Linked DNA regions of Homo sapiens. The main gene of each other region encodes a partner of the protein of the gene in region 3 in a complex. Links are inferred from orthologs where the notes say so. Each region holds a gene or a part of one and is shown on either strand. Other genes may lie near its edges. The genes, in order: TNNC1, TNNC2 and TNNI2. A codon is read from its position in the direction of its gene.

Region 1 (8,061 bases), on a different chromosome or scaffold from region 3:
GGTCAGGCGCCAGGCTCTGCAGCCAGCCTGCCTAGGACAGGGAAGGAAGCGGCCATTGGGTAAGAGTGGGTCCTGGGGATGAGTCCACGGCCCAGGGACACCAGAGCCAGATAGCAGACCTTGGGAGAGCAGGCTTTATTTGCATCCCCCAGGACAGATCTGGGGAGGGAGTCGGGGGATTTGGGGTTGAGGACATGGCCAGGCTCAGGTCCTGGGACCCCGACCCCCTCCCCAACCCCAGGACTCAGCTGGAGTTGGAGGCTGGGCATAGGCAGCTCTGGGTGAAGGTCAGCATCTACTCCACACCCTTCATGAACTCCAGGAACTCTGTGGAAAGAGGGGCAGGTGTGGGTTGAGGGTAGGGGCTGGGCAGGGCATGGAGGCAGGAGATCAGCCCACCCACCCGCTTACCATCATAGTCGATGCGGCCGTCGTTGTTCTTGTCTCCGTCCTTCATGAGCTCCTCGATGTCGTCCTCCGTGATGGTCTCGCCTGTAGCCTGCAGCATTATCTTCAGCTCATCCAGGTCGATGTAGCCATCAGCATTTCTGTGGGGAGGGGGCTCAGGGTAGGGCTGTGGGGAGGGCATGAGGCAGCCCCACCCATGCCCCAGGAGGCAGAGCAGGGACACTGGGAGATGGGGCATCCCTCTCCCCTATCAGGCAGAGGCCACAGGGTCCCTAGGCCTGGAATCTGAGACTGCCCTCCTGTACAGCTCGGCTTGAGTGTGGGTCAGGGTCAGAGGTCAAGGGTCACGTGCTCACTTGTCAAACATGCGGAAGAGGTCAGACAGCTCCTCCTCAGATTTCCCTTTGCTGTCGTCCTTCATGCACCGAACCATCATGACCAGGAACTCATCAAAGTCCACCGTGCCGCTGCCTGGGGGTGGGCAGCATGGCCGTTACAGAGGCCAGGGTAGGTACTGCAGGCAGCACCTTCGACACGAACCCCCATGTTCTCACCGCATCCTCACACCAAACGCCAGGCTTGTGTAGCCCTTATGCCCATTTTATAGATGAGGCAACCAAGGCTCGGATAGGCTAAATTGCTCCCAGCTAAACAGAGCCAGCATTCCAGCCCCCAGCCAGCTGGGGTTCTTCTGGAGCCTGGGGAGGAGGGGGCTCACCGTCCTCGTCCACCTCATCGATCATCTCCTGCAGCTCCTCAGGGGTGGGGTTCTGGCCCAGCATCCTCATCACCTTGCCCAGCTCCTTGGTGCTGATGCAGCCATCCTCAGCGCCCAGCACGAAGATGTCGAAGGCTGCCTTGAACTCTGTGTTCAGGGGTTGGGGGGCACAGTAGTCAGGGCTCAGCAGCCAGGACCACGGAGGGCCAGAACCCTGGGGCCACCTGCCAACCTGCCCACCTCCCTCGGAGACCTCTCTGAGGGCAGAGCAAGAGGGACCAAGCCTCTGGTCTCTGGCCTGGGGTCCTCTTCTGATAAGGGGTCCCCATGCCAGCCTGGACCCGCTGGTCTCCCACATGTGTGATAGGGATTCTCACCATTTTTCTGCTCTTCTGTCAGCTGCTCTACCTAGAAAGGAAAGGGAATCTCAAGGCTCAGACTCAGGTATAGCTGCTGCTGAGGAAACCAACCCATTCCACAGGTGAGAAGGCTGGAGCTGGAGGAGGCAGGCTATTTCCAGGCCACAGAGTGGAGGTCTCAGTCCTCCCTCCCTGCCCCCAAAGCCCTGACGTGACCCAGCTGGCCTCACTGCGACTGGGCTCAGGGCCAGGGTGACAGGTGGGCACCCCCTTCAGGACCAAGGTGACCCTCAGTAACAATAGTCAGTGACCACTCAATGCCCTTTCGGCCCCTGATGAAACTCAAGCTGGGTGGCCCGAAGGACAGCTGTCCCTCAAGTTGGGATAATAAAACCAGTGTGGAGGCAGGCAAGCCACCCACGGTAACCTGACCAGGGTGGCCACTGGGCTATTTTTAACGAGGAACAAAGTTAAACCTGGTGATTGTTCTGGGGACTTTGGCATGCAGGGGGTGGGGCAGCGTTATCTGGCCCCCTGGCCTGCTAGTGCCGCCTCAGAAGCCAAAATTAGTCCCCAACTCCGCCAGGCCTTGTATGGGCACTGGGTGGAGGGCTGTCCCAACCCCGGCTCCATGGACTCCCACAGGATAAGCAGGCGTGCCCCCAGAGCTGGCTATAGCACTTCCCTGCCCAGGAGTGAGGGAGGCTGAGGGAGGGGTTCCCCTGGGGACAGCTGGCCATGCCAGGATGTCCTTGCTCTGGGGTTGGGGGAGGTCACCACCACCCAGGATAGAATAGCATCTGAAGACCCTCAGTGACCCAGGAGGTTGCAGGGGCTTGGGGTGACCACTCTCCAGCCCTCATTCCCTCGCTCTCACCCCTAGCTAAGCCACTGAGCCCTGAGCCTGCCAGGCATGATGGGAGCTGGGGCCCCAGTTCTCTGTTCCTTCTTCCTTGGTTCTCCCTCATGTCCAGAACTTCCCTGCCTCAAACTTCAAAGCCCCATCTCCAGCCCAGGACTCAGGCTCTACAGACCCCTCCTCTCACACCCTCCACCCTCCAAAGCATCTTCGGCCCGCCAAGGGGCTGGAGTGGGGTGGCAGATTTTGAGCATGTGAGAAGCAGAATGTGAGGGGCAGAAATGGGGGTTGGGGACAGGGAGACAGTAATGGGGACTCAGACAGCTCAGGAGGAAGAGATGAAAAGAGAAAGGCAAAAACGTCCAGAGACAAATGCAGAGACATGTGGCTGAGCGACAGTGCCACAGACCACAGACACTTGGAAACAGAGAGTGAGACACGATGCTGAAAGCTGCAACCTCCTCCACCACCCTTCAGACCCGGAACCCCCTACCCCTTCTGCATCCTCAAACACCAGAATCACTGTCCCTGTGAGGGCCTGGGTTGAAGGCACGTAGGCCTTCTCCTTGGTCCCCACCACTTCCCTGGGGCTACTAACCCCGCACTCTCAGCTGAGTGAGCCCCCAGTGGGCCTGCCCACCCCAGCCCTACCCAGCCCTGTCCCTCACCGCAGCCTTGTAGATGTCATCCATGCTGGCGGCTCACAGGACAGCTTGCTGGGGTTGCCAGCCGGCCCTTGACTTAAATAGCCCTGCCCCGCTGCATTCCTGGCCCAGCCCAGCCCAGCCCAGCCCACCCCTGCGTGTAGTATCCTCCAGCCCCTCCTCTGGTCCCAGTGATCTCAGGCTGGCCTGAGTCCCCACGTCCTCTGCCCAGGGCAGGGAGCAGACGAACGGCTACAAGGACCAGGTTTCTTTCCCTCCTGTCCCCCACACTCCCCAAAGGGACTCTCTGAAAAGGTTTCTGGAATGAATGAAAACATAAGCCCAGTGCAGGACAGGAGCTACAAAGTCGTGGGCCCCAGGCAAGGTGCAACACAACAGCTCAGGCTCCCATCCAACCAGGTTGGCGGGTTGCCATGACCTCCACTTTCCAGATAAGGAAACTGAGGCTCTGGAGGAGTGGTGACTTGCCCAAGATCTGACTGACTTGGTAACCCCCGCCTTTAACTAAACCTCTCTGGAATGGGGGTGCAATGTGCAAGGAGAGGCTAGGAGTGCAGGGCCCTGCCAAGAGAAGCCTCGAATGCCAAGCTCATAGTAAGATGCTGTGGAACTGGTGAAGGAGGAAGTGACTGACCCACCTTAGGACAGGGTGGCCAGGAGCCCTTCTGCCAGAGGAGCCTGTCCCAGACCTCCCATCTGCCCAGGGAGAAGTACCCACTTCGGGCTTAAGTCAGCTGCTCTCAGTTATTCAACAGCACCCCTATAGATGCCCCATCTGTGGCAGGCTCTTTCCCTCCTCACCCTCCAATTAGGTTACCACCTCCCTCTTCTAGGTCTCATCTTTCCCCGGTTTAGGATTCAGCACTGTAGTTCCTGGGTCCAGATCAACCTGTCTCCCTCGTTTTGAACTTTGGCAGGCCACCCCGTGGGGTTCTTGTGCTCAGTGGCAGCACACACCCCTCCATCCACCTACACCTTCCTTCGTACAGAGTTCGTATCAAGTTTATCCCTCTTGATAAACACGCTCCCTGCCTCGAGCACTACTGCGTGCTGGGCCGCGCATCAATCAACCCACTCAGTTGTCCAGAAGCCCCACTGACAAGAGATCTCCGAATCTCAGAGAGGTTCAGAACTGGCCCAGAATCACTCTCGCCCTGCTCCGGCGGTAAGCACAGGTCCTATTTTCCCCTCCAACCTGCCTTGCCCTAAAGAGAAAGAGCCCAACAGCCAGGTGAGGCACTATTATGGCCTCCTTTATCAGGAGGAGTAAACTGAGGCCAGGAAGAGCAGTGACTTGCTTCGTGTGGCCTGGGAGACTCGGGACCTTCTGTCCCCTCTTCCCGAGGACCCAGGGGCGATGCCCAGAGCTGTCACCACCCGGGGTCTCAGTTTCTAGCAGGCTGTGCAGGGTACCGCCGGCGGCGCCACGCAGGTAGATTACGCAAGCGAGCACCTCGCACGCGCGCCCTGAGTGGCCCCTGTCAGTCACGCGCGGGGGCGGGGCGAGGGCGCAGGAAGAAGGCGGGGCCAAGATGGCGGCGCAGCGCGCGGCGGGGGCGACGGGCGGCGGGGGCCGGGGGGCGGTGGGACGTTGACCCCGCCCCCTGCTGCTGCTAGTCTGCGCCGGGCGGCGGTGGCGGCGGAGACCCGAACATGGCGACCGCGCGCACCTTCGGGCCCGAGCGGGAAGCCGAGCCGGCCAAGGAAGCGCGCGTCGTGGGCTCGGAGCTTGTGGACACTTATACGGTGTGTTGGGGGCGCGGGCACCCGAAGCGGGGGTGGTGGCTGGAACCGGGAGTCCGACTCGGGGGCTTGGGGAGGGGTCCGGGATCTGCAGCCCCGAGGAGCGGGTAGAAGGGTCTGCGATTGCGAGGAGGGGGCTGGGACGGGGGATCTAGGAAAGGGATCTGGGCCCCGCAGGTCCGGGAGAAGGGTTGCTCGGGGCCCGGGGAGGCGGTTTGGAAAAGGGTACGCGATCAGAAAGGGAGGCTCGGGTTGGGGGCGGCATCTGGGGATAAAGGGGGCTTGGGGAGGGGGGTGTCTAGATGAGGCGGAACCCCTCTAGATCCTCTAGGACTGGAGGGGCCCCGGCCTGGAAGACCGTTACAGGGGTCCAGGAGGAAGGCGATGGGGAGAGGGTCTCTGATGGATGGAATCAGGGAAAAGGGTCAGGCTTCGCAGGCCTTGAAGAAAGAGAAGGCGTCAGGACCCTGATCTGGGGAGCCTGAGGTGGTGGTTGAGATTTTCTCTGAGAAGTGCAGGAGAGACCTGGGGAGCAGATGCCTTGGGGGTCGGGCGGAGACAAGACCGGAGGAGGGGTGGAGCCCATCTATGGAGAAATGGGGGTGGTCTCAGTGCTAAAGCGCAGGCCCTATAAGCCTTAGGAATCTTCGTGACTTTGGGCTGTGGGAGCGAGATGGGGCAACAAGCTGCCCACACACACTTCTAAGCTATGGGGGAGACAGAGGACAAATAGCGGGTAGTTCCCGACTTTGACGGGGTTGGATGCCAGGCCTGTGAGCCTGGTGGGCTGCCTGGCAAAAACCGGCCCTGGACTAGGCATAGAGCACCTCCCTGCCTCCTCCCCTTTGTTCCCGCAGGGTAGGGAGTGGGTGGGGGCCTTGGGCCTGCCTGCACCTCCCCTCCCTGGCCCTCATCCTAACCTTCCGCTCTGAGGGCCATTCTTCTGGCTCTTTTCTCCTTTCCTGAAGGCAAGGGGAAGGAATCAGGCAGGATGGGAAGAGGAGAGGGGTGGATCTTGAAGCAACAGGCCAGCCTGGAGAAATGGCTGCTCCTCAGGGCTGGAGGAGGCTTCAGCTCCATGCTGCAGAGAGGAGGGGGAAACTAGGTGCAGGAGGCGGGTGAGGTCTCTAAGCTGATGGCTGACTGGCCATCAGCTATGGGCACATTCAGCCAGAGGGCCATCTTCAAAAAGCTCACCCTATTCTGGACTGCGCCCCTCCTCTGCATGTATGTCGGGGGAGGTGGTGATCTAGTTTGGACCCTACCATCCTCTGTCTCCGGGTGTGCCGAGTTGGACATTATTAACACACCTACCTTTTGAACACTTGCCATGGGTCAGGCCCATGTACAAAGCATTTTACATGCATTGCCTTACTTGGTCCTTGATTCTAAGATGGAGGAACTAAGGCTCAGAGAGAACTTAGGCTCCAAGTTACTTATATAAGTGACACATAAGCTGCAGCCAGGAAATGGCAGAACCAGGTTTTTAACCCAGGCCTTCCTTAACCTCTAGGCCATATTGCCTCCTGATAGAGCTTAGTTGCTACCACTCCCTCCCCACATCAGCTGCTTGTGCCTTGATTCCTGGCTCAGCAGCAGAAATCACAGCCATGAACCAGTTGAAAGGGTTGGAAAATGACTTGCTTCCAGGAGGTAGTCAGGGCACCTGGAAAGAAGTACAACAGAGAAGATGCTCAGGCTAGAACTGGCCCTGCTCTGCCTCCCTTGGAAGAAATGGCCTTGCCTGCAGCTCCGGTTGGGTTTTGAGTTACCTAGAGGCAGGAGGTAAAAAACTAAAGAGGTGACTTGTGGTAATCACCTTTTTCATTCCTTACTGATGGATGGAGCCACATGCTTGTCTCATGTGCCTCCCAGCCCTAGTGCTTGGGCCATGGAGGAAGCTGAGAGGGGCCCTGCTGGTCAGCAAGGGTCAGGTGCAGAGGCTGGTGGGCAAGGGCAGCCTGACTTTGGCCTTGGGGTGGGTCTGAGTTGCAGAGAGAAAGACTGATAAAAGATAATTGGGAAAGATAATTGCAGCTTTTGCTGCTGGGGGAGGAGACTCCTTGTTGCTGGGCTCCCTTGCCACAAGGGCTGTTGGTTTCCCCTTTTAGGTTTACATCATCCAGGTCACTGATGGCAGCCATGAGTGGACAGTAAAGCACCGCTACAGCGACTTCCATGACCTGCATGAAAAGGTAACTGTTAAGAGCTGGGAGCACGTATCTCAGGGCTGGGGGACCCGTAGGCCAACTTTCCATTGTGCCACATATTAGTTTTAGGGCAAAACAGGTTCCATCTCTATAGTTCTTTAATAAACCACTTTGTTAATATAACTGCGTTCATTAATATAGCATGTAAATGCTAGCCTTCAGCTCTAGCATGAGCCACTCTGCAAGGAGCATATTTGAATTTCAGTTTTAATATTTCCAGTCCTAGCTTGGGTATGAGATGCTCAGACAGTTTCCTGGGAAGGGGACAGGTTTGAACTTGTTTGATCTAGCGATAGCTATTCCAAAGCCTTACTTTAATATCTGGCTGTGATTCCATCTCTTTTTTTTGCTTTTGGAGATGCTGTCTTTCTCTGGGTCATTTGCAGCATAACTGTTTTAAAGACACACCGCTGCCCTGATTGGTTTTTACTCTGGCTTGGAAAAGATGGCAATTTTAGGGGCAAAAGGTGTTACTTTTCTGAATGTCTCTAAAGTCTCCAGATGGAATTCCTTGTCTAGAATTGTATTGGTATTTCTAATGCTAATTGGATTTAAAGAGGCCAAATCCCAGGTGCACTAGTTTGGTCACTGATTTTGGTACTACTGCAGGGAGGGGCTGTGCAAGTGCTGACAAGCGCCTGCCCTCAAGCTTCTTGCCTTGGTCTTACATAGGCACAGAGCCTCTTAGTCTGTGGTTGATGTGCTTATGTTTTTTTACAGCTCGTTGCAGAGAGAAAGATTGATAAAAATCTGCTTCCGCCCAAAAAGATAATTGGGAAAAACTCAAGAAGCTTGGTGGAGAAGAGGGAGAAGGATCTGGAGGTCTACCTCCAGAAGCTCCTGGCTGCCTTCCCTGGCGTGACCCCCAGAGTACTGGCCCACTTCTTGCATTTTCACTTCTATGTAAGTTCCTCATCGGGTTTTCACCTGTGCCTGCAAACCCACAACTGCCAAACTTGAGGCAGCAAACCAGGGGAGACCTCAGCTTTGAGGTGGGCTGGGGTTTGACCCTAGGTTAGAAGATGGAGGAACGTCACCCTGGTTAGGAATGCATTGTGGCCAGAAGCATGTTAGTTGACAGATTTGCCGTAAATTAGAC
Region 2 (7,967 bases), on a different chromosome or scaffold from region 3:
AAGCAATTCTCCTGCCTCAGCCTCCTGAGTGGCTGGGACTACAGGCATGTGCCACCATGCGGCTAATTTTTGTATTTTTAGTAGAGGTGGGGTTTCACCATATTGGCCAGGCTGATCTGGAACACCTGGCCTCAAGTGATCCACCTGCCTCTACCTCCCAAAGTGCTGGGATTACAGGCGTGAGCCACTGTGCCTGGCCAGTTTGCACAATTTCAAACCTCGAATTACTCTTCATTTGGCTTATGGGCAAGATATTGGGACAAAAAAGGCATACTTCATTCATTAATTCAACACTCACTCATTCACCAACCATTGGTTAAAAAATAACTTGTCCTTCGGTATATGCCTTACATGTCTGGGCACAAAGCTGGTCTTCATGAAACCATGGGTTGTTAGAGCAGGAGGGCCCCTCAGAAATCTGGCCTATCACCTCCATTTTACAGATAGGTAGTCTGAGGCTTAGTGAGGGGAAGGGCTTATGCTGGGTCATATAAACAGTCAGAACTAGGAGATCTGAAGGTTGCGCATTCTCCACTATTATTATTTCTTCTTCTTTTTGCTTCCTTCTTCCTCCTCCTGCTTCTTCTTCCTTTTTTATTTATTTTTATTTATTTTATTTTTTTTGAGACAGAGTCTTACTCCATCACCCAGGCTGGAGTCCAATGGCACACTCTTGGCTCACTACAACCTCCATCTCCTGGGTTCAAGCGATTTTCCTGCCTCAAGTAATCCCAAGTAGCTGGAATTACAAGTAATCCCAAGTAGCTGGAATTACAGGCATGTGCCACCACACCCGGCTAATTTTTGTATTTTTAGTAGAGATGGGGTTTCACCATGTTGGCCAGGCTGGTCTCGAACTGCTGACCTCAAATGATCCACCTGCCTCAGCCTCCCAAAGTGCTGGGATTAGAGACATGAGCCACCGTGCCCGGCCTCTTCTTTCAGAGACAGAGTCTCACTCTGTTGTGAGGCTGGAGTGCAGGGGTGCGATCATAGCTCACTGCAGCCTCAAACTCCTGGGCTCAAGTGATTCTCCCACCTCAGCCTCCCAAGTATCTGGGACTACAGATATGTGCCCACCATGCCTGGCTAGTATTTTATTTTTTGTAAAGGTGGGGTTGCATGTTGCCCAGGCTGATCTTGAACTCTTGGCCTGAAGAGATCCTCCTACCTCTGCCTCCCAATGTGCTGGGATTACAAGTATGAGCTACCACCCACCATTCTTTGTTTTATTTTAATTTTTTAATTGGAGACAGCGTCTCGCCATGTTGCCCAGGCTGGTATTGAACTCCTGGGCTCAAGAGATCCACCTGCCTCAGCTTCCCAATGTGCTAGGATTAAAAGTGTGAGCCACTGCCCCCATTCTTAAATTCTGTATGGATATCTCCCTACAGCCTCCCTGAGAAATGGTCATCTAGCTCCTGTTTGGGTATACTCAGTGATACGGAGCTCATTACCTCCTGAGGCCACCTGTTCCCATTATTGTTCAACTATGACTATTAGGAAGTTCCCCCTTATATTGAACTAAATACCATCCAGTTCAGTTATTCTTATGTAGAATATAATATCTGTTGAACACCTGCTACATAGCAAGTGCTGAGCACTGGGAAATGTGATGATCTGTAGAACATAGAATGGGTTGTGAGCATAAGGTATGCTCAGTGCTATGATTGAGGAAACTACTAGAGACCACCTTGGACTCCCTGGTCTGGACACAGTGGGGGAAGGATCCCCGAGGAAGTGATGTTAGAGCTTAGAAAGATGATAGGGAAGTAGACAGATGAAGAGAGGAAAGATGGGAGTTTCTGGCAGAAAAAAACAGCATGTGCAAAGGCTTGAAGGTTCATAGAAGGTGGTGTTTAGAGTAGTCTTTTTTTTTTTTTTTTTTTTTTTGAGATGCAGTCTCCTTTTGTCGCCCAGGCTGGAGAGCAGTGGCATGATCTTGGCTCAGTGCAACCTTCGCCTGCCAGGTTCAAGTGATTCTTCTGCCTCAGCTTCCCAAGTAGCTGGGACTACAGGCGCCCACCACCACACCCAGCAGCAATTTTTTGTATTTTTAGTAGAGACAGGGTTTCACCATGCTGGCCAGGATGGTCTCGAACTCCTGACCTCGTGATCTGCCAGCCTGCACCTCCCAAAATGCTGGGATTACAGGCATGAGCCACCGTGCCCAGCCTAGAGCAGTATTTTAAAGTCTGATCAGAGCAGACAGCAACATGATGTGGAGGGAAGGAGTGAGATTAGAAGGGCCAATGGGACCTTGCTTGGCTACATTAAGCAATTTGGGCCTTACCTAATCCCTTGAATAAACAAAAGAACAAAGGCTGGGCTCAGGGGCTCATGCCTGTAATCCTAGCACTTTAGGAGGCTGAGGCAGGCGGATCACTTGAGGTCAGGAGTTTGAGACCAGCCTGGCCAACATGATGAAACTTTTTTTTTTTTTGAGACGGGGTCTTGCTCTGTTGCCCAGGCTGGAGTGCAGTGGTGTGATCTCGGCTCACTGCAAGCTCTGCCTCCCAGGTTCACACCATTCTCCTGCCTCAGCCTCAGCCTCCCAAGTAGCTGGGACTACAGGCGCCCACCACCATGCCCGGCTAATTTTTTTGTATTTTTAGTAGAGATGGGGTTTCACTGTGTTAGCCAGGATGGTCTCGATCTCCTGACCTCGTGATCCGCCCATCTCAGCCTCCCAAAGTGGTGGGATTACAGGCCTGAGCCACCGTGCCCGGTCGATGAAACCTTGTCTCTACAAAAAGTAAAAAATTTGCCGGGTGTGGTAGCTCACACCTGTAATCCCAGTGCTTTGGGAGGCTGAGGTGGGCGGATCACCTGAGGTTGGGAGTTTGAGACCAGCTTGACCAACATGGAGAAACCCTGTCTCTACTAAAAATACAAAATTAGCCGGGCATGGTGGCTCATGCCTGTAATTCCGGCTACTCGGGAGGCTGAGGCAGGAGAATTGCTTGAACCCAAGAGGCGGAGGTTGTGGTGAGCCGAGATTGCACCATTGTACTCCAGCCTGGGCAACAAGAGCAAAACTCTGTCTCAAAAAAAAAAAAAAAAAAAAACCAAAAACAAAAATTAGCTGGGCGTAGTGGTATGTGCCTGTAATCCTAGCTACTCAGAAGGCTGAGGCATGAGAATCACTTGAACCTAGGAGGCGGAGGGTGCAGTGAGCCGAGATTGTGCCACTGCATTCCAGCCTGGGTGACAGAGTGAGAGTCTGTCTCAAAAACAAAACCCCAAAAAACCAAAAAACAATAAAAACTAAATTGGAATCCCATGGGTCTCCCTCACCCTTTGGCACCCTGCCTGCCTGGGGGAGGCCTTATTTAGCTTGGCCCAGCCCTGCTGAGCTTTCCTTGGGAATGTCTATATATAGGGGAAGGGGGCAGCCCAGTTGCCACTGTCCATCTGCATTCCTTGGTGTCCAGCCCCCCTTTCCTGGCCCCAGAGCCTGCTATCGGTTGTCTTGGTGCTCTTTCTGTCCACGTAGCCACTGTCTACAAGCCTTGCCTACTCCCCAGTGCCCAGCCTGCACCTTGTGGATTCTCAGGTTGGGCTCCCTCTGGACTTGGTCTGCCCACCCCTTTACTCCCCAGATGACCAGATTTCTTCACTGAGCTCTAGGAAGGGGCCAGCTGTCCTTTTACCACTTAAAGAACCTTCCCCTGCCTACTCCTTACTTCAAAAAAAGTGAATCCAAACACCCTTTCCCTGGAGAAGGTAACTTTCAGAGAAGGATCTTTGCTTTCAATGATTATTTCTCCTCCAAATGCACATCCTCCTCTCCTCCATCCCTCCATACATTTTTCCATCTGGACAGGTGCCCCAAGGACTGTCTGTCCCAACTTCCCTCCAGTCAGGATTAATAATAAGAATCATCAACATGGGTGGGCATGGTGCCTCATGACTGTAATTCTAGCACTTTGGGAAACCAAGGTGGAAGGATCCCCTGAGCCTAGGAGTTCGAGACCAGCCTGGGCAACATGGTGAAACCCCATCTCTATAAAAATACAAAAAAAAAAAAAGCCAGGGGTGGTGGTGCACCTCTAGTCCCAGCTACTCGGGAGGCTGAAGTGGGAGGATCACTTGAGCCCAGGAGATAGAGGCTGCAGTGAGCTATAATAGCACCACTGCACATCAGCCTTGGTGACAGAGTGAGTATAGACCTTTATAATTTACAAAGCTCTGCAGTCAAGTGGGGATAATCGTTGCTACCTCATAGGAGGAGCACTAGATGAGATCATGTTAAAATGCTTAGCACAGTGTGTGGCACGTCATGGGGTTCAGTAAACAGTGGCCTACCTGTCACTTTCTCCTCCTATCCCCTGCCCCTTACCATGGTTCAAAGACGGGACATTCCTCTTGCCAAGCACCAACGCTGTGTACCCAGCACAAGCTAGGTGACTTATACCCGGGTTCCCATTTACCATGGTCTCTCTGTGAGGGAGACCCCACAGACAGGTCCAATCCCACAGATGAAGAAATGGCTCAGAGAGGCACTGCTACCGGCCCAAGGTCACACAACTCGCAGAGGCTGGCCTTGGATCTTGGGTTTTGGACTTCAAGGCTTGTACTCTCCCCATTTTACCATGCTGCCTCACCCTTTACTACTCTGATCATCCTTACCATCTTGGAGCCAGTGTGCTTCCTCGGTCGGGGGGACTCCAAGGCAGTGGAACAGGGCAGGCCTTCCTCACAAGAATCTAGGACGTCAAGGCCTGCCACCTGCTTGGAGGCTTAAATTTCTCTGCAAGGGCCCTTGGCTAAATTAGGTAATGGGTTCAGACTGTGGGAGGGGTGGGACTCGCTGACCCCAGGATCTGATTGGGCAGGGTCTCCAGTGCTGGGGAGCAGGGAGGTGGGAGGGGAGGGTGCCCCTACAAATCCCGGGGGCTAGAGCAGGCCAGGTCATCTTTGGGTGGTGGAGTGCAAAGGAGGCGACCTGCAACAGAGGAGTCCCGGTCACCAGCAACCATGGTAAGGACAAGAGGGGACTTTGTGCCTTTACTCACGGGAGCACTCTGGACCCCTTTCAGGCCAGGCCTGGGTGCTCTGTGGGGCAGTAACTTGGATGTTTGAGGTTGGAGCATGGAGGTTCCTGGAACCCAGGTGTCTTGGAGGAAGGCCTTTGACTTTTCTTGAAAGGGGAGGGCTGGGATATTCCAGAGATTGATCCTTAAGGCTTGCTGACTGCCTACTCACTTCTGGAAACTTCCAGCAGTGTCATTCATAGACCTGTGAAGAGCTCTTAGCTTGTTTCCTTCACACAGTGGGGACTCTGAGGGGTCAGAGTGAGTCACCCAGCAGGCCAGTGGCAGGGGTGAGCCAGAAGCCTGGCCAAACCCTCCTATCATCATGGAGAGAAGAAAGCCTCCTCCAGAAGACGGGAGGCCGGCAGGGCGTGGGGCCTGCTCAGATGCAGGGCTCTGGGAGCCCTGAGGATGATGGGAAGGGGCAGAAGATGACAGACCAGAGTTAGAGAGACTCCGCTCTCCTAGAGAGGGCTTCTGATTTGGAGCTGTTGTTTTGGTCTGAGATCCCCCTCCCCACTTCACTTCAAGGAGTAACTAGATCCCAGAGGCCAGCTGCTGTTGCCCATGCCTGACTAAAAATAGCCTGCCCTCCTGGCATAGGGAAAGAGGAGGAGAGGAAGGAGGGGGAGAAGGAGGAGCACTGGTGGCCAGCTGGCTGAAGAGCTCCTTGGAAGCCTCACCCTGTCCTCACTGCCAGCCTCAATCCAAAGCCTCTGACCCAGATGGCCTGGCTTGGATATGACGTGGAAACCCCTGCAGAAATCTCACTTTCATGTCAAGGCCTCCATCACATTCGGCCCCCCATGAGGGGCCTTTTCTCCAATGACTGAATCCTAAGAAGGAAGCTGACAGCCTCCGACTCTGCCAGTTCTCTGAGGGGCGGGATGATGTGTCTTTTATCTCTTCTTTGTGGTTCCAGTGCCTGATCTGTGGCCTGACATGCAGCAAGTACTCAATAACTTTGTGTTGCATTATTATTTATTTGAGAACAAACATTTTATTGAGCAACTATTAAAGTACCGGGCACCATTAGGAGCTGCAGAAAACTGGAAAATAGTGCTGGAATGGTGCTAGCCCTTTACAAAGCCCTTTCACACCCCTGATATCTCATCCCTGAAAAGCTACAGAGAAAAGATGAAGGCACGCTAATTGACGTGCCTAAGGTCACTGGGGGGTGGGGGGGGTTCCCGACTTGGCCTTCAATTGACAAGTGAGAAGGCCTTGGGCTTAACTTGTTGTCTCCTCTCTTTTGCTCAAAACTGGGGTCACAGGCTGCGCGCGGTGGCTCACGCCTGTAATCCCATCACTTTGGGAAGCTGAGGCAGGCAGATCGCCTAAGGTAGGGGGTTCGAGACCAGCCTGACCAACATGGAGAAACCTCATCTCTACTAAAAATACAAAATTAGCCGGGCGTTGTGGTGCATGCCTGTAATCCCAGCTACTCGGGAGGCTGAGGGAGAAGAATCGCTTGAACCCCGGAGGTGGGGGTTGCGGTTGTGGCGAGCTGAGATCGTGCCATTACACTGCAGCCTAGGCAACAAGAGCAAAACTCCGTCTCAAAACAAAACAAAACAAACAAACAAAAAAAACTGGGGTCAGGCCGGGCATGGTGGCTCACGCCTGTAATCCCAGCACTTTGGGAAGCCGAGGTGGGCGGATCACCTGATGTGAGGAGTTCAAGACCAGCCTGGCCAACATGGTAAAACCTCGTCTCTACTAAAAATACAAAAATTAGCTGGGCGTGTTGGCGCATGCCTGTAATCCCAGCTACTCGAGAGGCTGAGGGAGGAGAATCGCTTGAACCCAGGAGGTGGAGGTTGCAGTGAGCCGAGATCACGCCATTGCACTCCAGCCTGGGCGACAGGGCGAGACTGTCACAAAAACAAAAAGCAAAAACAAAAACTGGGGTCAGAAGCTGGGCACAGTGGCTCAAGCCTGTAATCCTAGCACTTTGGGAGGCCGAGGTGGCAGGATCACTTGAACCCAGGAGTTCAAAACCAGCCTGGGTAATATAGTGGGACCCCATCTCTACAAAAAATTTTAAAAATTAGGCGTGGTGTATGCTATAGTCCCAGCTACTCAGGAGGCTGAAGTGGGACGATTGCTTGAGCCCAGGAGGTTGAGGCTGCAGTGAGCTATGATCACACTACTGCACTCCAGCATGTGTGACAGAACGAGACAAAACAAAACTGTGATTGGGTGCTGTGCGGGCACACAATTATGTGACAAGTTTGAAGTTGTTCTTCTGGAGAACCAAGGGCGCTGACAGAGTGGGGGTTGGGAAGAATGGCTTTGAGGTGAGGAACTGCTCTGGGGCTGCCTCTTCAGCTCAGACTTTCTCTGTGTCTCCTGCAGACGGACCAGCAGGCTGAGGCCAGGTCCTACCTCAGCGAAGAGATGATCGCTGGTGAGTGAGGCGCGGCAGGCTGGGGGCTGGGTGGATGTATGCTGGGGACATGTTGGCCTCTAGGCAGGGTGGGGGTTGGGGGGGGGTAGGTGTGAGGCTGACAGTCCAGCAGGCCTCACCTCTGCCCTCTGCCCTCCCTCGCAGAGTTCAAGGCTGCCTTTGACATGTTTGATGCTGATGGTGGTGGGGACATCAGCGTCAAGGAGTTGGGCACGGTGATGAGGATGCTGGGCCAGACACCCACCAAGGAGGAGCTGGACGCCATCATCGAGGAGGTGGATGAGGACGGTGAGCGGGTGTCCCTCGGAGGCAGGGGATGGTGGGGAGAGGCGGCAGCGGCTGGGCTCAGGCTCAGTCTGCCACCTGCTGCCCGCAGGCAGCGGCACCATCGACTTCGAGGAGTTCTTGGTCATGATGGTGCGCCAGATGAAAGAGGACGCGAAAGGGAAGAGCGAGGAGGAGCTGGCCGAGTGCTTCCGCATCTTCGACAGGTGCGCTGGGGGCCCGGGAGCCGAGGGAGG
Region 3 (7,570 bases):
CAGTGAGCTCCGCCGACAGCCAGCCCTGCTCCTCCCGCCATGACCCTGCAGACCCCTCTGGGCTTCCAAGTTCCTGGGGGCTGCAGTGAACATGCTCCACCTGCATGGCTGGCAAACCATGGTGGGCCCCAGCTGTGGTGCGTGCTGGGGTAGAGGCAAGGAAGTGATGGGACCGCAGAGATGAGACCCCCAGGGATGAGATGGGACCCCCAGGCAGGGCCCAGGGTCCAGGGCCCAGGAGAGAGAAGCAGGGAGGGAGAGAGCTTCCTGGTGGAGGACGCATCCTACAGTGGGGGCAAGGGTGCTCTGAGGTCCGGTGAAGGCAGGGACTAGGCTGCCCAGGCCCTGCCTGCTTGGCTGGGGCTGGGGGCTGCTGGGAGGTGGCTGGGAGGCTGGGCCTGGGCAGCTAAGCTGGAGCTTTGGCCAGGGTCCAGAGCCTCCCTCCCTTCAGCTTCCTGCTGCACAGAACCCTCGCCCCTGGCCACCCCGTGCTGCCTCCTTGCCCTGGCAGACCCAGCACTGGCTGCTGCTAGTCAGATGGGGTAGCGGGCAGGGGCCGGAGGGGCCACCCTCCCAGCTGACCCAGCCTCCTGGGCCGCTTCTTCCAAACCAGCAGGGTAGAAAGATGGGGCACCCACCAGTCTCTCCCAGTGCCCCGGCCCCAGCTGGCACCACAGCTATACCTGGGCTTATTCCAGACCTTGTCGCCGGGACCCCCTGTGAGTTGTGGGATTCCCAAGAGGGGTGTGGGGATAACCCAGCCAAGTGGGGGCTGCAGCTGTCCACAGATGCACTCAGCCTGGCCTCTACCCCAGGGCCCCGCTGGGCTCTCATTGCCGGCGCCCTTGCCGCGGGCGTCCTCCTCGTCTCCTGCCTCCTCTGTGCTGCCTGCTGCTGCTGCCGCCGCCACAGGAAGAAGCCCAGGGACAAGGAGTCCGTGGGTCTGGGCAGTGCCCGCGGCACCACCACCACCCACCTGGTGAGGAGCGGCTCCTTGCTCACTCAGTCCAGAGAGGGCTTGAAATCCAGGCTCCAGAGCCCAGGGCAGCGAGGCGAGTTCAGCCCCAGGGATGGTTTAACCCCCACAGAGGCAGGGCGTTGAGGACCTTCCTGGCAGGGAAAGTGGGTGAACAGAGGTGAGAAGGAGGCCATGCAACAGGGGCTGCCCCATGGGCCCGAGGGAGCCACAGCGGGTTCTTGAGGAAGGCAGGGGGTACCCCAGATGCCACGTTTTGGGTGGGTTTGGCCGGTCTCACAGAGCGAAGCCGACGATTTGTGCCTGTTGGGTGGCCTGGCCTGGAGGCGGGGGGTCTTGACCCATGTCATGCAAGGGCTGCCCGGGAGCCCAGGGCTCTGATGAGGCATGATGTCAGCACCACCTGCCCCTTGTCCCAACTCACTCCAGGTGCAACCTGATGTGGATGGCCTGGAGTCCAGCCCGGGGGATGCTCAGCAATGGGGGTGCCTGCAGCTCTCCCTGGAGTTCGACTTTGGAAGCCAGGAGGTGAAGGGCCCCGCTGCGCAGGACCAGCGGTTCTGCGAGTTTCCGGAAAGGGTGACGGGGGAAGGGCAGACCCCATGCCCTGGGTGGTGGGGAGCTGACAGGGCAGGGGCCCTTGGCTGAGCCCACCCCGCTGGCTCCCAGATCAGGGTGGGCCTGAGGCAGGCAGCCGACCTGAGGCCTGGGGGCACCGTGGACCCCTATGCCCGGGTCAGCGTCTCCACCCAGGCCGGACACAGACATGAGACAAAAGTGCACCGAGGCACGCTCTGCCCCGTGTTTGACGAGACCTGCTGCTTCCACGTGAGTCAGGGATGGTCGGCTGGGTGGGCCTGGACGGCTGGATGGGCCTGGGCTGGGTGGGCCTGGGCAGCTGGGTGGGCCTGGGCAGCTGGGTGGGCCTGAGCTAGGGCAGCAGGGCCTGGCTCACGCCGCTGCCTCAGATCCCGCAGGCGGAGCTGCCAGGGGCCACCCTGCAGGTGCAGCTTTTCAACTTCAAGCGCTTCTCGGGGCATGAGCCCCTGGGTGAGCTCCGTCTGCCACTGGGCACCGTGGATCTGCAGCATGTTCTGGAGCACTGGTACCTGCTGGGCCCGCCGGCTGCCACTCAGGTGAGGTGCTGGTCACCAGGCCACAGCCCAAGGCAGAGCTGGCAGGGACCCTGCCCTATGGGCCATCGGAAAGACAGGCCTGATGGGCAGCATTTTCGGGGGTCTGAGCCCCAACTCGGCCAGAATCACCCTCCCGGGCTGAAGCCCCTCTTGCTGCCCACAGCCCGAGCAGGTCGGGGAGCTGTGCTTCTCTCTCCGGTACGTGCCCAGCTCAGGCCGGCTGACCGTGGTGGTGCTGGAGGCTCGAGGCCTGCGTCCAGGACTTGCAGGTGAGGGTCACACCTGCCCACGTTGTTGTACAGAGGGGGGGCCCGTGCTCAGCCCCGAGCCCTGGGATGCCCCTTCGGCAACCTTGCCCTCCCAGAGCCCTACGTGAAGGTCCAGCTCATGCTGAACCAGAGGAAGTGGAAGAAGAGAAAGACAGCCACCAAAAAGGGCACGGCGGCCCCCTACTTCAATGAGGCCTTCACCTTCCTGGTGCCCTTCAGCCAGGTCCAGGTGGGCCACCGGGAGGCAGGGGCAGAGCGAGACCCAGTGCCAGACCACGATGACTGTGGTCTTTCTCCCCCAACTCCAACCTCTGGCCTGTCTCTGCACAGAATGTGGACCTGGTGCTGGCTGTCTGGGACCGCAGCCTGCCGCTCCGAACTGAGCCCGTAGGCAAGGTGCACCTGGGTGCCCGGGCCTCGGGGCAGCCCCTGCAGCACTGGGCAGACATGCTGGCCCACGCCCGGCGGCCCATTGCCCAGCGGCACCCCCTGCGGCCAGCCAGGGAGGTGGACCGCATGCTGGCCCTGCAGCCCCGCCTTCGCCTGCGCCTGCCCTTGCCCCACTCCTGAATGCACCACATGCCTCTGTCTCCCCGCTGAGCCCAGGCACTTGCCCAGGCCGCCCTGCAGGACCACTGCAATAAACGCCTTCTCCTGCCACTGTGTGTCCGGCTGGAGCCTGGAGGGGATGCAGAAATAGGGCCCGGGCCCGCTCACCAGGGTCCCCTGACAAGGACGGGGGAGGGGCTCCTCTCCAGACTCAGCCAGGCCCTGAGGCCTCTGACCGGTCCCTGCTTGACCCTCGGGTAGGGGTGGGGAACCTCCCCGGGGAGCACAGATCTCCCCTCTCCGGGCCGCCTGGGAAGACCGGGGAGGTGGGGGCCAGAGAGTCGGGACCACATGGGATGGGGCGGGCTAGAGCCAGCCCTGTAGGGACAGAGTGGGCAATGGTGTCTGGGGGCTGGTGAGCATGGAGGGAGGACCCCCAACACCTCAGAGACCTGTGCTGCAGGGCCTTCCCTGCATGAGCAGCAGGGGGCAGCAGATGCCTTCGGAAGCCGCTGGGGCCTTTAGGGGCTCAGTCCTGGCCGGATGCCCCTCCCAGTCCCCACACATCTGGGCTGCCTTAGCGGCTGGGGCCTCCACGCTGCTGTCTCCTCTGATCCTCCCCACGGGGCTGCGAAGCCGGCAGGGCTGGGGCCAAGAGCCCCCACTCCGAGAGGGTGCCAAGTCACGGTCCAGGGGACCTCTGCAGGGCGGGGGCCTGGGGGCTGGGGGGGCGATGGCCTCGGGCCTGGGTGAAAAGGGCAATGCCAGGCCTGCCCGGGCAGCCAGGAGGGCCCCAAGCCCCCACGGGTGTGAGAGGCTCCCAATGCAGGTGGCGCCATTCTCCTTAGGTTGAAGGATGTGTTCCAAGTCGCCCGGCAAGGGGACTGCAGCAGGGCGTTCTGGGCAGGCGGGAGGGGCCCAGAGGCACGTGCGGCGTGCCCCTCACTCCTGGTCCTGCTCCCCAGGCAGGAAGATAGCATCACGCAGGGAGGGGGCAGCCCCCAGCCCTCGGCCACTGTGGCAGGGCCCAGAAGGCCACATCTGGAGGTCCAGGCCTCACCCCAGAAGCCAGGCTTGCAGAAGGGGGTCAGGCCTGGGCTGAAGTGGGAAACCCATTGCAGGGGCTGAGCCGGGGAGCTGGCCCCGCAGGGAGAGGCTGTGGCTGTCGCCAGCAAGCAGCCAGGTTGGTGGACTGGACGCTGACCTCGGGTGAGATGGGCTGAGGCGAGGTGTGGATACTCGCAGCTACCCCTCAGCTGACCCGAGCTGTGTGCCCGGCTGAGGCCACAGGCAAAGCCAGGGACACTGTCCTCAGGCTCCTTACGAGAACGACAGAGGCATCTCCAGCGCGTCACCGAGCCCTAAATAGAGTAGCCCAGCCACGGCACCCCCCACCAAGACTTCTTGGACTGGGCGGCAGCACGCGGCCAGGCCAGGCGGCCGGACAGGTGGGGAGGTCTCTGTGGCTCTCCACGCCCCCATTGGTCTGAGGAGGACTCTATGCCCTTTCTGAGCAGGGGCCCAGCCTGGGGGAGGCCATTTATACCCCTCCCCCTGGGCCCACCAGCCCAACTCGCCGCTGCCGGCCTGACCTCGCTCCCAGCCCTGCTGCCCAGATTCTAGGTGAGGCCCAGCCCGGCCCGCCGAGGCCGGGGGACAGGGCGTGGCTCGAGCTGGTTTGAGGGAGGACTTCCTGGGGCGGGGGTCTGGGGGCCTGGGGGATGCCACCAGCAGCCCCCTTTGGGGCCTGCACGGGTCCGGGAGTGAGAAGGAGAGGCTTTGGGGAGGCAGCTGTAGCGAGAGGCAGGTATTAGACACTCCCTGACCACCAGGCTTCACCTCTGGGGACCCTGGAAGGAGAGTTTAGGGGTCAAGAAGCCCCAGAACCTGAGCCCCCAGGCCAAACTGAGGAGGGATTTCTTCCATGCACTTAGGCCCAAAGCCAAAGAGAGAGGGTTAAAAATAACAGCGTCACTCAGGCGGCCACCTGCGCTGGCCCATCCCACCCTCCCTCGGGGACAGCTGCAGCTCCTCAGGCTATGCCTGGGACATTTTGGGAACACTTTCTCCTCTTACTTCTCACCCTGGGGAATTCCAAGACATTGTCCTTGAAGGAGGTGAGAGTAGGGGGAGGAGGTGAGAGTAGGGGGTGGGCGGGAGGGGGCTGTCATCAGGAGCCCTGAACCCCTCACCACCTACCTGATGGGCACAGGCATCACGGTGGCAAGGGCCTGGCCAACACCTCTGTCTTCCTCTCCCCACAGGCTCCAAGCTCAGGACCTCAGGATGGGAGAGTAAGTGGTACCCCTGTACCCCCATACAGTGACCCTGCCCACCTCCTGCCCTGTCCACCCCATCACACACTCCGACCCCGCCAGCCATGGCCCTAACCTCTGTCTTCTCTCCCCGTCCTGCCTGCGTCCTCCCTCCCTGGACAGTGAGGAGGTAAGTAGTTGCTGGGGGCTCAAAACATGACGAGGAGGGGGCTCCCCCAACTCAGCATAGGTCATAGGTCACAGCCTCAAGGCCCTAAGGCCCAGAGAAGATGGCCTGGCCCTCCCCGCTGGCAAAAGTGCCCCACCCACCCACCAAGACGCTGCTGAAAGAGAGGAAGTGGCTGCCCCAAGCCTTCTGGGGCAGGGGAAGTGTGGCTGTGGCCTGGTCACAGGGGAATCACTTCTTCTTTCTGATTCCTGCACTTCCCGCCCCCACCTCACCGGCCGACCTGCCCCCAACTGGCCCTCCTCTCCCCCAGCCTCTGGCCTCCCAGCACCATGTGCCACCTGGCAAAGTGTCACACACCACACAGCACCATGTCCCAGTGCAAGGTCTGGGGCCAGGGAGGCCCAGCCTGCCCATCATGGCCTCAGGAGCCCCCAGGCTCTGCTGGTCCCGGAGCCGGAGCCCCTGACCTGGCCAGGGAGCGTGGAAGGGGGTGGGGGTGCTCCAGGCCTGGAGGCCCTGACTCGACCCCCTGTCCCCTGCCCTGCAGAAGCGGAACAGGGCCATCACGGCCCGCAGGCAGCACCTGAAGGTAGGTGTGGGCTCCCGGGGGGGTGGCCCAGGTGGGTCTGCAGGGGAGCTGGCTGCAGCCCCTCACCGCCTGCCCCACCGCAGAGTGTGATGCTGCAGATAGCGGCCACGGAGCTGGAGAAGGAGGAGAGCCGCCGTGAGGCAGAGAAGCAGAACTACCTGGCGGAGCACTGCCCGCCGCTGCATATCCCGGGCTCCATGTCTGAAGTGCAGGTACCAGCCCCTCCCCGGCCACCCCGCCTCCCCAGCAGCAGGCCTGCCTGCTAACTCAGTTTCCCCACTTGTCAAGAGGGCCAGTGGGGTGGTCAGGGCAGGGGCAGGTGACCGTGGCTGCCAAGTGTCAGGACGGCCGCCCGCCCCCACACCCACCCCTAGGAGCTCTGCAAACAGCTGCACGCCAAGATCGATGCGGCTGAAGAGGAGAAGTACGACATGGAGGTGAGGGTGCAGAAGACCAGCAAGGAGGTGAGTGGTGGCGGCGGGCCGGCGGCAGGCGGGTAGGCGGTGGCCCAGCGGGCAGGCGGGGCGGGCCGGGGAGGCCGAGACCACCGGGACCTCGGGCTCCCACCCGGCTCCCCTGCCCACAGCTGGAGGACATGAACCAGAAGCTATTTGATCTGCGGGGCAAGTTCAAGCGGCCCCCACTGCGGAGGGTGCGCATGTCGGCCGATGCCATGCTCAAGGCCCTGCTGGGCTCGAAGCACAAGGTGTGCATGGACCTGAGGGCCAACCTGAAGCAGGTCAAGAAGGAGGACACAGAGAAGGTGCGTGCCACGGGGGGAGCACCACCACACCTACCCTGCCGGGGAAGCACCTCCCACACCTGCCCCGCCTGGGGACCACCTCCCACACCTGCCCTGCCGGGGGCCCTGTACCACTGCCCCTCCAGGGTGCCATGCAGGGGACACTCCACTGCCCAATGCAGAGGGTAAACTGAGGCTGAAGGTGGTGTGGACCAGGGTGCGTGCATAAGTGGGTGAGCCTGAGCTCTCTCCTGCCCTCTCCTCCACAGGAGCGGGACCTGCGAGACGTGGGTGACTGGAGGAAGAACATCGAGGAGAAGTCTGGCATGGAGGGCCGGAAGAAGATGTTTGAGTCCGAGTCCTAGGCCACTCGCTGCCCCTACGCCTGCCCCGGTGCCCGGCTCCCAGCAGAACATACTAGGGAGATGCACCCAGAGCCTGCCAGGGAGGGCTGGCCTCACCACCACCGTCAATAAAGGATTTGAATCCCCATGGCTGGTCTGGTCTGGCTCTCCCCAGCCTCTTGGGCCATGCTCTGGGCCCCCGCATCGGTGGCCTGCAGTGTGGTCAGTGGCCAGCGGGGAAAGCCTGGGAGGAGGCCACACGGGGCCTGGGATTTCAGGTTGGGAGGGAAGCTGCTTCCAGCAAGGAGGTGAGCCTGGGAAGGCCCCTACAGGGGAATCCACCCCAGGCTGCACGGGGCTGTTTGGTGAGGGCCCTGATAGTGCCCCAGGCGTTCCTGGGGCTCGGCCTGGGCACATCCAACATGCAGGGCTGGGGATGGAGGCTGTGGGACCGAGCCAGGTCTGGGTGGGAGTTCCTGAGATAAGTGGGTCTCACATTTGCACAGCCACGCAAAGGCCC

Evidence for each region.
Region 1: the proteins of TNNI2 (region 3) and TNNC1 are in contact, whole or in part, in an NMR structure (PDB 2MKP), measured with the Homo sapiens proteins. Residues at the interface, in NP_001139301.1 of Homo sapiens: Arg116, Met117, Ser118, Ala119, Asp120, Ala121, Met122, Leu123, Ala125, Leu126, Leu127, Lys130, His131, Lys132; in NP_003271.1 of Homo sapiens: Asn18 (codon at 1,507), Glu19 (codon at 1,504), Phe20 (codon at 1,271), Ala22 (codon at 1,265), Ala23 (codon at 1,262), Ile26 (codon at 1,253), Val44 (codon at 1,199), Met45 (codon at 1,196), Met47 (codon at 1,190), Leu48 (codon at 1,187), Gln50 (codon at 1,181), Pro52 (codon at 1,175), Glu56 (codon at 1,163), Phe77 (codon at 853), Met80 (codon at 844), Met81 (codon at 841), Cys84 (codon at 832), Met85 (codon at 829), Lys86 (codon at 826), Asp87 (codon at 823).
Region 2: the proteins of TNNI2 (region 3) and TNNC2 are in contact, whole or in part, in a crystal structure (PDB 1A2X), measured with the Oryctolagus cuniculus proteins. The link is inferred for Homo sapiens from one-to-one orthologs. Residues at the interface, in NP_001076252.1 of Oryctolagus cuniculus: Glu5, Asn8, Arg9, Ile11, Thr12, Arg14, Arg15, Gln16, His17, Leu18, Lys19, Ser20, Val21, Met22, Leu23, Ile25, Ala26, Glu29, Leu30, Glu33; in NP_001076114.1 of Oryctolagus cuniculus: Ser13, Glu15, Met16, Ala18, Glu19, Ala22, Lys91, Leu96, Glu98, Cys99, Arg101, Ile102, Phe103, Arg105, Ile119, Phe120, Ala122, Ser123, Glu125, His126, Val127, Glu131, Ser134, Leu135, Asp138, Phe152, Met155, Met156, Val159, Gln160.

The regions. Positions count from the first base shown.
Region 1 is NC_000003.12:52,450,980-52,459,040, forward strand, and holds TNNC1 (troponin C, slow skeletal and cardiac muscles), read right to left. Parts: upstream 3,063-8,061; 5' UTR 3,037-3,062; coding exon 3,013-3,036; intron 1,535-3,012; coding exon 1,504-1,534; intron 1,274-1,503; coding exon 1,127-1,273; intron 880-1,126; coding exon 765-879; intron 549-764; coding exon 412-548; intron 328-411; coding exon 296-327; 3' UTR 121-295; downstream 1-120. Other genes in the region: NISCH (nischarin), read left to right, coding at 4,663-4,755, 6,864-6,947, 7,683-7,865. UniProt on the Homo sapiens protein: Troponin is the central regulatory protein of striated muscle contraction. Tn consists of three components: Tn-I which is the inhibitor of actomyosin ATPase, Tn-T which contains the binding site for tropomyosin and Tn-C.
Region 2 is NC_000020.11:45,824,262-45,832,228, reverse strand, and holds the start of TNNC2 (troponin C, skeletal muscle), read left to right. Parts: upstream 1-4,916; 5' UTR 4,917-4,980; coding exon 4,981-4,983; intron 4,984-7,394; coding exon 7,395-7,446; intron 7,447-7,590; coding exon 7,591-7,734; intron 7,735-7,822; coding exon 7,823-7,937; intron 7,938-7,967. UniProt on the Homo sapiens protein: Troponin is the central regulatory protein of striated muscle contraction. Tn consists of three components: Tn-I which is the inhibitor of actomyosin ATPase, Tn-T which contains the binding site for tropomyosin and Tn-C.
Region 3 is NC_000011.10:1,834,481-1,842,050, forward strand, and holds TNNI2 (troponin I, fast skeletal muscle), read left to right. Parts: upstream 1-4,500; 5' UTR 4,501-4,553; intron 4,554-4,988; exon of another isoform or gene 4,989-5,047; intron 5,048-5,194; 5' UTR 5,195-5,216; coding exon 5,217-5,224; intron 5,225-5,368; coding exon 5,369-5,375; intron 5,376-5,726; exon of another isoform or gene 5,727-5,743; coding exon of another isoform or gene 5,744-5,758; intron 5,759-5,922; coding exon 5,923-5,964; intron 5,965-6,047; coding exon 6,048-6,176; intron 6,177-6,338; coding exon 6,339-6,428; intron 6,429-6,550; coding exon 6,551-6,727; intron 6,728-6,975; coding exon 6,976-7,071; 3' UTR 7,072-7,198; downstream 7,199-7,570. Other genes in the region: SYT8 (synaptotagmin-8), read left to right, coding at 105-137, 614-719, 816-979, 1,406-1,504, 1,646-1,804, 1,945-2,112, 2,276-2,381, 2,477-2,610 and 1 more. UniProt on the Homo sapiens protein: Troponin I is the inhibitory subunit of troponin, the thin filament regulatory complex which confers calcium-sensitivity to striated muscle actomyosin ATPase activity.